2 linked regions of the Homo sapiens genome follow. The protein of the gene in region 1 interacts with the protein of each later gene in a pairwise test. Each region holds a gene or a part of one and is shown in the gene's direction. Other genes may lie near its edges. The genes, in order: RUNX3 and HDAC5.

Region 1 (3,806 bases):
GCATCAGAGAGGAGCTGTTTGCCTAGGAGCAGATGGCCAAGTCAGAATGGGAACCCAGAACACCTTCCTCAAAGGCCAAGGCCTGGTGGGCTGTGTAATTCTTGAAACCTTTCCTGACCCTCGGGGGTTAGAGGTGTGATCCCCATTTTGCAGATAAGACAGCTGAGGCCCAGAAGGCAAGAGTGGCTTGCCCAAGACAGTGACCACTGGTGGGTGAGAGCTGCCTGGTATGAGCTTGGGGCCACTGGGCCCTTGGGAGGGGCAGGCTGGGATCTGCCCTCCCATAAGTGAGGGTCATAGACACTAATCCAGGCCATGCTGGAGGAGCTGTCTGATCTGAGCCCAGCAGCTGGAGGCTGACAGCAGCCAGGACAGGCCCTGAGGGCCAACGCGGGGCTTTCCCCAGCCATCTCAGTCCTCTGCTTTTAAAAGCATGTGGCCTGTCCTCCAGCTCATCGGCACCCTCAGGGGTTAGACAGTATGATAACCACTTTACAGATGTGGAAACTGTGGCCCAGAGGCAGAGAGTGACTTGGTGGTCTAGAGCAGGGTATGATTGGAAATTGCACTCTCAACCCTGAGCTTCAGAGCAGGGAAGGGCCCCTGGTGGAGTCCACTGAGACCTTCTCATCTTCCTCTCCCAAGTCCTATCCTCCTGGGCCTGCAGATAGCAGCTCTGGGCCTGGGGCTGGACGGGGCCCTAACATCTATTGTGGAGTCCCGATACATCTATTGATGTATCGAACCCAGGCTGGCTGTGAACCCCGCCCTCTTCCGCCACAATAGATGTGTTTTCACAGGCTCTAGGGAGAGCAGGTGGCTGTGTGTCTTCTGCTTGACCTTGAGCTCACTGGCTGTCCAGAGCCTCAGTTTTTTCACCCATATGATAGGATGGTGGCAGACATTACTCAAGGGGATGCTGCCAGGCGAAACAAGATGGTGCTTGTCAGCTGCTTAGACGCTGCCGTGGAGGAAGCACCCAGCAAGCATCTGCTGCCGTTTTGATGATTTCCACTCCTGCTGGCGACTGCTTTAAAGGACAGCCCTAGCCTGCAGAGGTGTGATGGGGATCTACTGTGGGAGAAGGGGGGCTTCCTGGAGGAGGGGCTCCTGGACTGGGCTTCACAGGACAGAAAGCATTGCTGGCAGAGGCTGTCCTGAGCTGAGGCTCTGAAGAGTGGGGGGCAGAGAATATTCAAGAAATACTGGGAACAGCAGCAGCAGGAAGAAGTGGTAGTGGGTGGGCCCTGGGGCCAGCAGCCCTGCCTTCTTTTCTTTCTGGGGCCCCTCTGACCAGCGGCTGATCTTTGCTACCTTAAATCAGGGACTTTCAAAAGGAAGGGGCCTCAGTGAGCAGACTGTGCAGAGGGGAAACTGAGGCGTAGCAGGACTGGGCCCAAGGTGACGGAGTGGGTTAGAGCCAGAGCTCCCCACGCAGCTCTTGCTCTGGGTAACCGAATGAAAGAGGCTTTTTCTGAAGACCATCTTCTTTCCTCAGGCACTGGAACTTCTGTCCTATTCCCAGTGTGAGAGCCCTGGCCCTGTGGCTCTGAGACTCTCTGGCGCCCTGGCCACGTGGGGCCGCCTTGGCTCCCCTCTCCCCTCCCTGGCAGTGGCTCCAGCGTTCCACAGTAACAAGGAAGCTATTTCCGAAGTGCTGTTGGACTCCCCTCCTCCGGGAAGTCTGCCCTACGGAGGGCAAGGGAGCATGTGGTGGGAGCGTGGGTTCCGGGGTCAGATTACCTGACCCACAGCCTGGGTCCCGGAACAGGCGCTCAGCGTCGGTCTCATGGTGAAGCCTCGGTGGCCCCGTCTAAACAATGGGAACAAAAGGGAAAGTGTCAGGAAAAGAGCCCTGGGCTTGGAGTCGGGGGATCCGGGTGTGAATCCTGCCTTGCTGCTCAGGCTCTGTGTTCCTCACACGACTTCAGCATCCTGGCCTCCACACCCCGGTCTCCAGCATGGGGATGATAGTTCTGCTTCCTTTGGGCATGAGCAGAGATAAAAGCGATGGTCATGATGGTGGTGACCCACGTGACTGGAAAGTGTCCACACCTTAGGCCAGCACCTCAACCCACAAAGACAGTGTGATGGGGACACCGCAGCTCGGGGTGGGGGAAAGGAGTGTGACTTGAGTGAGGCCACCAGACTGCAAGTGACAGGACCCGTCCTCGAACCCAGGCTGGCTGTCAACCCCGCCCTCTTCCGCCAGGCCGCAGGAGTAACTGTAAACACTCTTTGTACATGGTGTGACTCAGAAACAGGGGACTTTATTCTCCTGTGACGAAAGTAACAAGGCCTGAGGTTTTGCACCAGCCCTATTGGCTCCCTTCAAGCTTGTGGCTGACTAAAACACCCAGATCCTTTGCACTCAGGCTGTTGTCGGATCAGTCTGTGGTCCCCACGTCCACCCGGCAGGCTTCATGCCTGTTAAGATTCTTCTGCTCACTTGTCCCCCAGCTCATCCACATCTCCCTGCCATTTCCAGTGGCCTCAGGAGCAAGGACAACATTTCCTCCAAGGCCTGTTAGGGCTGAGGACTCGGTCTGGAATTGGAAGCTCTGGCCGTACTGGGCCTGCCCTCCTCAGGGTAGCAGTCAGGTGCTTTCCACAAGGCATCTCCTCCCCATCCGCTCCAGGCCCCACCCATCCCACTTGCCTCGTTCACGTGACTTGCCCCATCCCCATGGGCATCTGAGTTTGCAGCCCCAGCTCCAGCTAAACTCGCCCCCAGCCCATGTTTTCCCCTTTGTTGCCAAGGGCCCTGGGAGGCAGCAGTGGGGGCCTGGCCAGAGACCAAATGGTCTTATTCCTGCCACCAAGTGTCCCATGGATTCCTGGTCTGGGGCCTCATTGGAGGAGAAGGTGGGGCTCCCTGGTTCTTGGTGACTGGCTGAGCCCCTGTGGCTCCCAGGCCCCCTGCTTTCTTTCTGAGGCTCCCAGATACCTGTTTGAGCTTCCAACAGGGATGCGTAGGGAGCTTGGGGGCCTACAAGTACCAGAATCCATTGCGTTCCCATTCTGAAAATCAGAAATCAGGCCCATGCGAGGCCTCGGGCTCTGTCCCCTCATGCCCTACAGTGGTCGACAGGCTTTTCCCACTTTTCGAGTCCCCAGCAATCACTTGTTCAGGCCCCAAGAAGCGCAGTGAGTTCTGTTTTACCTCCCACCTACATCTTGCCTCTTCTCCCTCTGCCAAACTAGAAAACGCACATGTCATTCTAGACCCAAGGCCTTAGGCAAACCTTCTCCTCCCCCTTACCCCCTCCCACATTTTTTTTTTTTTTTTTTTTTGAGATGGAATCTTGCTCTGTCACCTAGGCTGGAGTGCAGTGGTGTGATCTTGGCTCACTGCAACCTCCGCCTCCCGGGTTCAAGCGATTCTCCTGCCTCAGCCTCCCAAGTAGTTGGGATCATAGGCGCCCGCCACCACGCCCGGCTAATTTTTGTACTTTTAGTAGAGACGGGGTTTCACCATATTGGTCAGGCTGGTTTCAAACTCCTGACCTCACTCAGGTGATCCGCCCGCCTCGGCTTCCCAAAGCGCTGGGATTACAGGCGTAGCCACCATGCCTAGCCTCCATCTTTTCTAAAGGGTCCCAGGTCCAGGAAATCCCACCCCTTGTTCGGCGTGTGGCCTCCAACAAGCTTCCTCGCCTCTCCGCAGTTGCAGTTCTCTTACTTGTAAAAGAGGGCCTGGCCACCCTGCCTGACTGGCAGCCTCCCACCAAGTCACGTGAGGTAGAATGGCCGTGACCGTGTTAGGGTTGATCAGCCGAACCCTGGAGTGCACAGTCCTCCAAGGG
Region 2 (3,806 bases), on another chromosome or scaffold:
CTACTAAAAATACAAAAATTAGCCAGGCGTGGTGGCACATGCCTGTAATCCCAGCTACTCGGGAGGCTGAGGCAGGAGAATTGCTTGAGCCCAGGAGGCAGAGGTTGCAGTGAGCCGAGATCGTGCCACTGGACCTGGCCGACAGAGCGAGACTCTGTCTCAAAAAAAAACAAAAGAAAAGCTAGGTGTGGTAGTGCCTATAGTCCCAGCTACTCAGAACGCTGAGGTGGGAGGATCGCTTGAGCCCAGGGTGGTGGGGGCAGTGGTTGAGGCTGCAGTGAGCCATGATAGCACCACTACACACTCCACTCCAGCCTGGGTGACAGAGTGAGACCCTGTTTCAAAGAAAAAAAAAAAAAAGCTGGAGAGGAGAGGGGGCAGGTTTGTGGCAGGGTGGCTGCAGTGGCCATGGGGAGGTGTTTGGACCTGGGGGTTGGAGACAGCTCCATGAGCCCTGCTGAGGATCATGGTAGCCAGGCTGGGATCCTGGGCCCAGAGCAGTGCTGGCTGACACATAGGTCTGTGGCCCAGGTGTGGTCTACGACACGTTCATGCTAAAGCACCAGTGCATGTGCGGGAACACACACGTGCACCCTGAGCATGCTGGCCGGATCCAGAGCATCTGGTCCCGGCTGCAGGAGACAGGCCTGCTTAGCAAGTGCGAGGTAAGGGAGCCCCTCCTTCTTCTGGCTCTCAACTTAAATCCAGCCTTTGTTTCCCTGTTAGATAAGCCTCTCTTCATGCTTCTTCCTCATCCTCTCTTCAGCCCCAGACTTCGGGGCCAGTTCTCCCACCACCCCGTTCCATCCCTTGCAGCCTGTTTTCCCCCATGGTCCCCAGCTGAGTGGGGGGGATCCGGGAGTAAGGTCATGACAGAGCCAGGATCTACTTTCTGAAAATATTTGGATCTCCTGAGGCCAGGAAGTGGCTCTGTGTGCCCTGGCTATGGGGCAGAGAGGCTCTGAGAGAGCTGTGCCTTTGTGTGACCCCTCTTACTGATCCTCCTGGCAGCGGATCCGAGGTCGCAAAGCCACGCTAGATGAGATCCAGACAGTGCACTCTGAATACCACACCCTGCTCTATGGGACCAGTCCCCTCAACCGGCAGAAGCTAGACAGCAAGAAGTTGCTCGGTGAGCTGGCACATGGGTGGGCGGGCAGGCATGTTCAGTGTCAGGGTGGGATGGGGGCTCTCAGGAAGACTGCCTGACCAGGCTAGGAGGGTTGTCCCCACGGGCATAGGGCATTGCTGCGGCAGAGGTGGCACAATTATCACGTCACACACCTCCAGAGGGCGCCACTAAAATAGAGCATGCTGTGGGGCGCGGTGCAGGAGGATGGAAGTGCTCGGTTGGGGGGACTGCTTTGTTCCCCTCCTCCACGGCTTATCATGCTCCTCTCTCCCTGCCACCTGCCCCCAGAGGTAAGACGTCCCCAAGGACAGAGGACTGACAGCTTCCAACTGGTGTGGGCTGCAGAGGCCTGTCTTGTACTTGGGTCTGAGCCCTCATTTTTGGTGGCTAAGCCTGTAGCCCTGTGGCAGTTGAGGTGCCTTTTTTTTTTTTGAGACAGTCTTGCTCTGTTGGCCAGGCTGGAGTACAGTGGTGCGATCTCAGCTCACTGCGACCTCTGTCTCCCCAGGCTCAAGCAACTCTCTTGCCTGAGCCTATTGAGTAGCTGGGTTTACAGGTGTGTGCCACCACGCCCAGCTAAGTTTTGTATTTTTAGTAGAGATGGGGTTTCATCATGTTGTCCAGGCTGGTCTCGAACTCCTGACCTCAGGTGATCCGCCCGAGGCCACTTCTAGAGTAGCTCTATTCCTCTTCCATGCAGGCCCCATCAGCCAGAAGATGTATGCTGTGCTGCCTTGTGGGGGCATCGGGGTGAGTAGGGCGTACAGCAGTGGGGGTGGGCGGGCGGCTCTCCTAGGTCTGTCTCTTCCCTGCCTACCACAGCCGCTGGCCCACTGTCCAGGTGCCCTCCCCTGTTCTTGCCCTGCAGGGGGCACACTGAAACCTGCTCTCCTGCCCTGCAGGTGGACAGTGACACCGTGTGGAATGAGATGCACTCCTCCAGTGCTGTGCGCATGGCAGTGGGCTGCCTGCTGGAGCTGGCCTTCAAGGTGGCTGCAGGAGAGCTCAAGGTGAGCGTGTGCTTGTGACCTCGGTGCCCCTTGGCATGGCCCTGCTCCTCAGAGGCAGAGGACAGGGGCAGCCTTGGGATCCTTTCAGTGAGGCACTGTCCTTTGCAAGCTCAACTCTCAGGCACCAGGGTGGGAAGGAGTTGCCAGCTGGGAATTCAGGTTATGAGGGACCAACAAAAAGACACTAATGCCCAGTGCTCTCGTGGGTGTCTCGAGGCAGAAATAGTGTCTGCCTGCTCAAGCCTCATGGTTGGCATTCAAAATGGTCCGTTGAGGCTGGGCACAGTGGCTCATACCTGTAATCTCAACACTTTGGGAGGCCGAGGTGGGCAGATAGCTTGAGCCCAGGAGTTCGAGACCAGCCTGGGCAACATAGTAAAACGCTGTCTCTACAAAAAATTAACCAGGTGTGGTGGCGTGTGCTTGTAGTCCTAGCTATTCAGGAGACTGAGGTGGAAGGATTGTCTGAGCCTGGGAGGCCAAGGTTGTAGTGAGCCATGATCGCGCCACTGCACTCCAGCCTGGGTGACAAAGCAAGACTCTGTCTCCAAAAAAACCCATAAAAAAACAAAGAAACCCCAACAAAATTGTGCATTAAACATATGGATCTGCTTTTCTGGTTTGTGTTCACTTCCCTGCCTGGCTTGTGCTTCTGTCCTGTGCTACCCCCTCCACGGCCTTCCTGCCTGGATCTTGCCCCTCACCTCTGCCTGCACCTCTTCAGAATGGATTTGCCATCATCCGGCCCCCAGGACACCACGCCGAGGAATCCACAGCCATGTGAGTGCCCTAGATTCTCTGCCCTCGCCCCTTCCTGTCTCTTGCAAACGTCATGCTGAGGCTGACCTCCTGCCCTTTTCTCCCCTCCTCAGGGGATTCTGCTTCTTCAACTCTGTAGCCATCACCGCAAAACTCCTACAGCAGAAGTTGAACGTGGGCAAGGTCCTCATCGTGGACTGGGTAGGCAGTGAGCTGGTGGGGCTGGGCAGGGGCGGGTAGAGCTAGGACCAGGGTCAGCCTTCAGGAAGTCTCCTCCCCCAGCCCCACCTTCAAGCACCCCAGTCGTCCTCATCCTCGGGTGCTGGGTGTGGGTGCAGAAGGAAGGGCGCTGGGGCTCCTGCCGGATGACTAACGTCACATTCCAACAGGGCTCCCTCCTCAACTATGAAAGACATTTAGCTCCTGTTCCATCTTGGCCCTCACGTTGCAGTTTCAAGCAACGAAGGGGATTTCCTACCTTGAACGGTAGTGACGCTGCCGCCATTGCTAGTAGCCGATATTTCCTCCCACCCCCTACAATTAGGAGCAGACTGTATACCAGGAACACAATGAGTACTTTATGGCCACCTCGAGTAGTAAGAACGAGGATGTCCATTTCTGTGAACAAAGGTGTTGTTGCGTGACTTACCCAAGGCCACTCAGCTGGGGATGTCGGCACTGGGTTTCAGACCAAGGCTTTTGGCCCCAGCACTCTGCTCTTGCTACCATGGGTGCTTCCCAAACCCTGCTCCTAATGGTGGAGGCAGAGGCACACACCACTCTCTGTGAGCTGGGGAAGTAGCCAGGACCAAGCCTCAGGAAGGACAAAATCTCTTGGAAGCCCAATTCTGGCTTAAAAATTCATGTAAATGTTGGATCCTCCTTCAGAATCTTACGTGCTTGTG

What was found.
Region 2: the proteins of RUNX3 (region 1) and HDAC5 interact in binary tests that used the Homo sapiens proteins (3 or more experiments, as listed by UniProt).

What each region holds. Positions count from the first base shown.
Region 1 is NC_000001.11:24,909,777-24,913,582, reverse strand, and holds part of RUNX3 (runt-related transcription factor 3), read left to right. Parts: intron 1-3,806. UniProt on the Homo sapiens protein: Forms the heterodimeric complex core-binding factor (CBF) with CBFB.
Region 2 is NC_000017.11:44,081,881-44,085,686, reverse strand, and holds part of HDAC5 (histone deacetylase 5), read left to right. Parts: intron 1-531; coding exon 532-665; intron 666-1,011; coding exon 1,012-1,132; intron 1,133-1,832; coding exon 1,833-1,882; intron 1,883-2,034; coding exon 2,035-2,142; intron 2,143-2,866; coding exon 2,867-2,922; intron 2,923-3,014; coding exon 3,015-3,102; intron 3,103-3,806. UniProt on the Homo sapiens protein: Responsible for the deacetylation of lysine residues on the N-terminal part of the core histones (H2A, H2B, H3 and H4).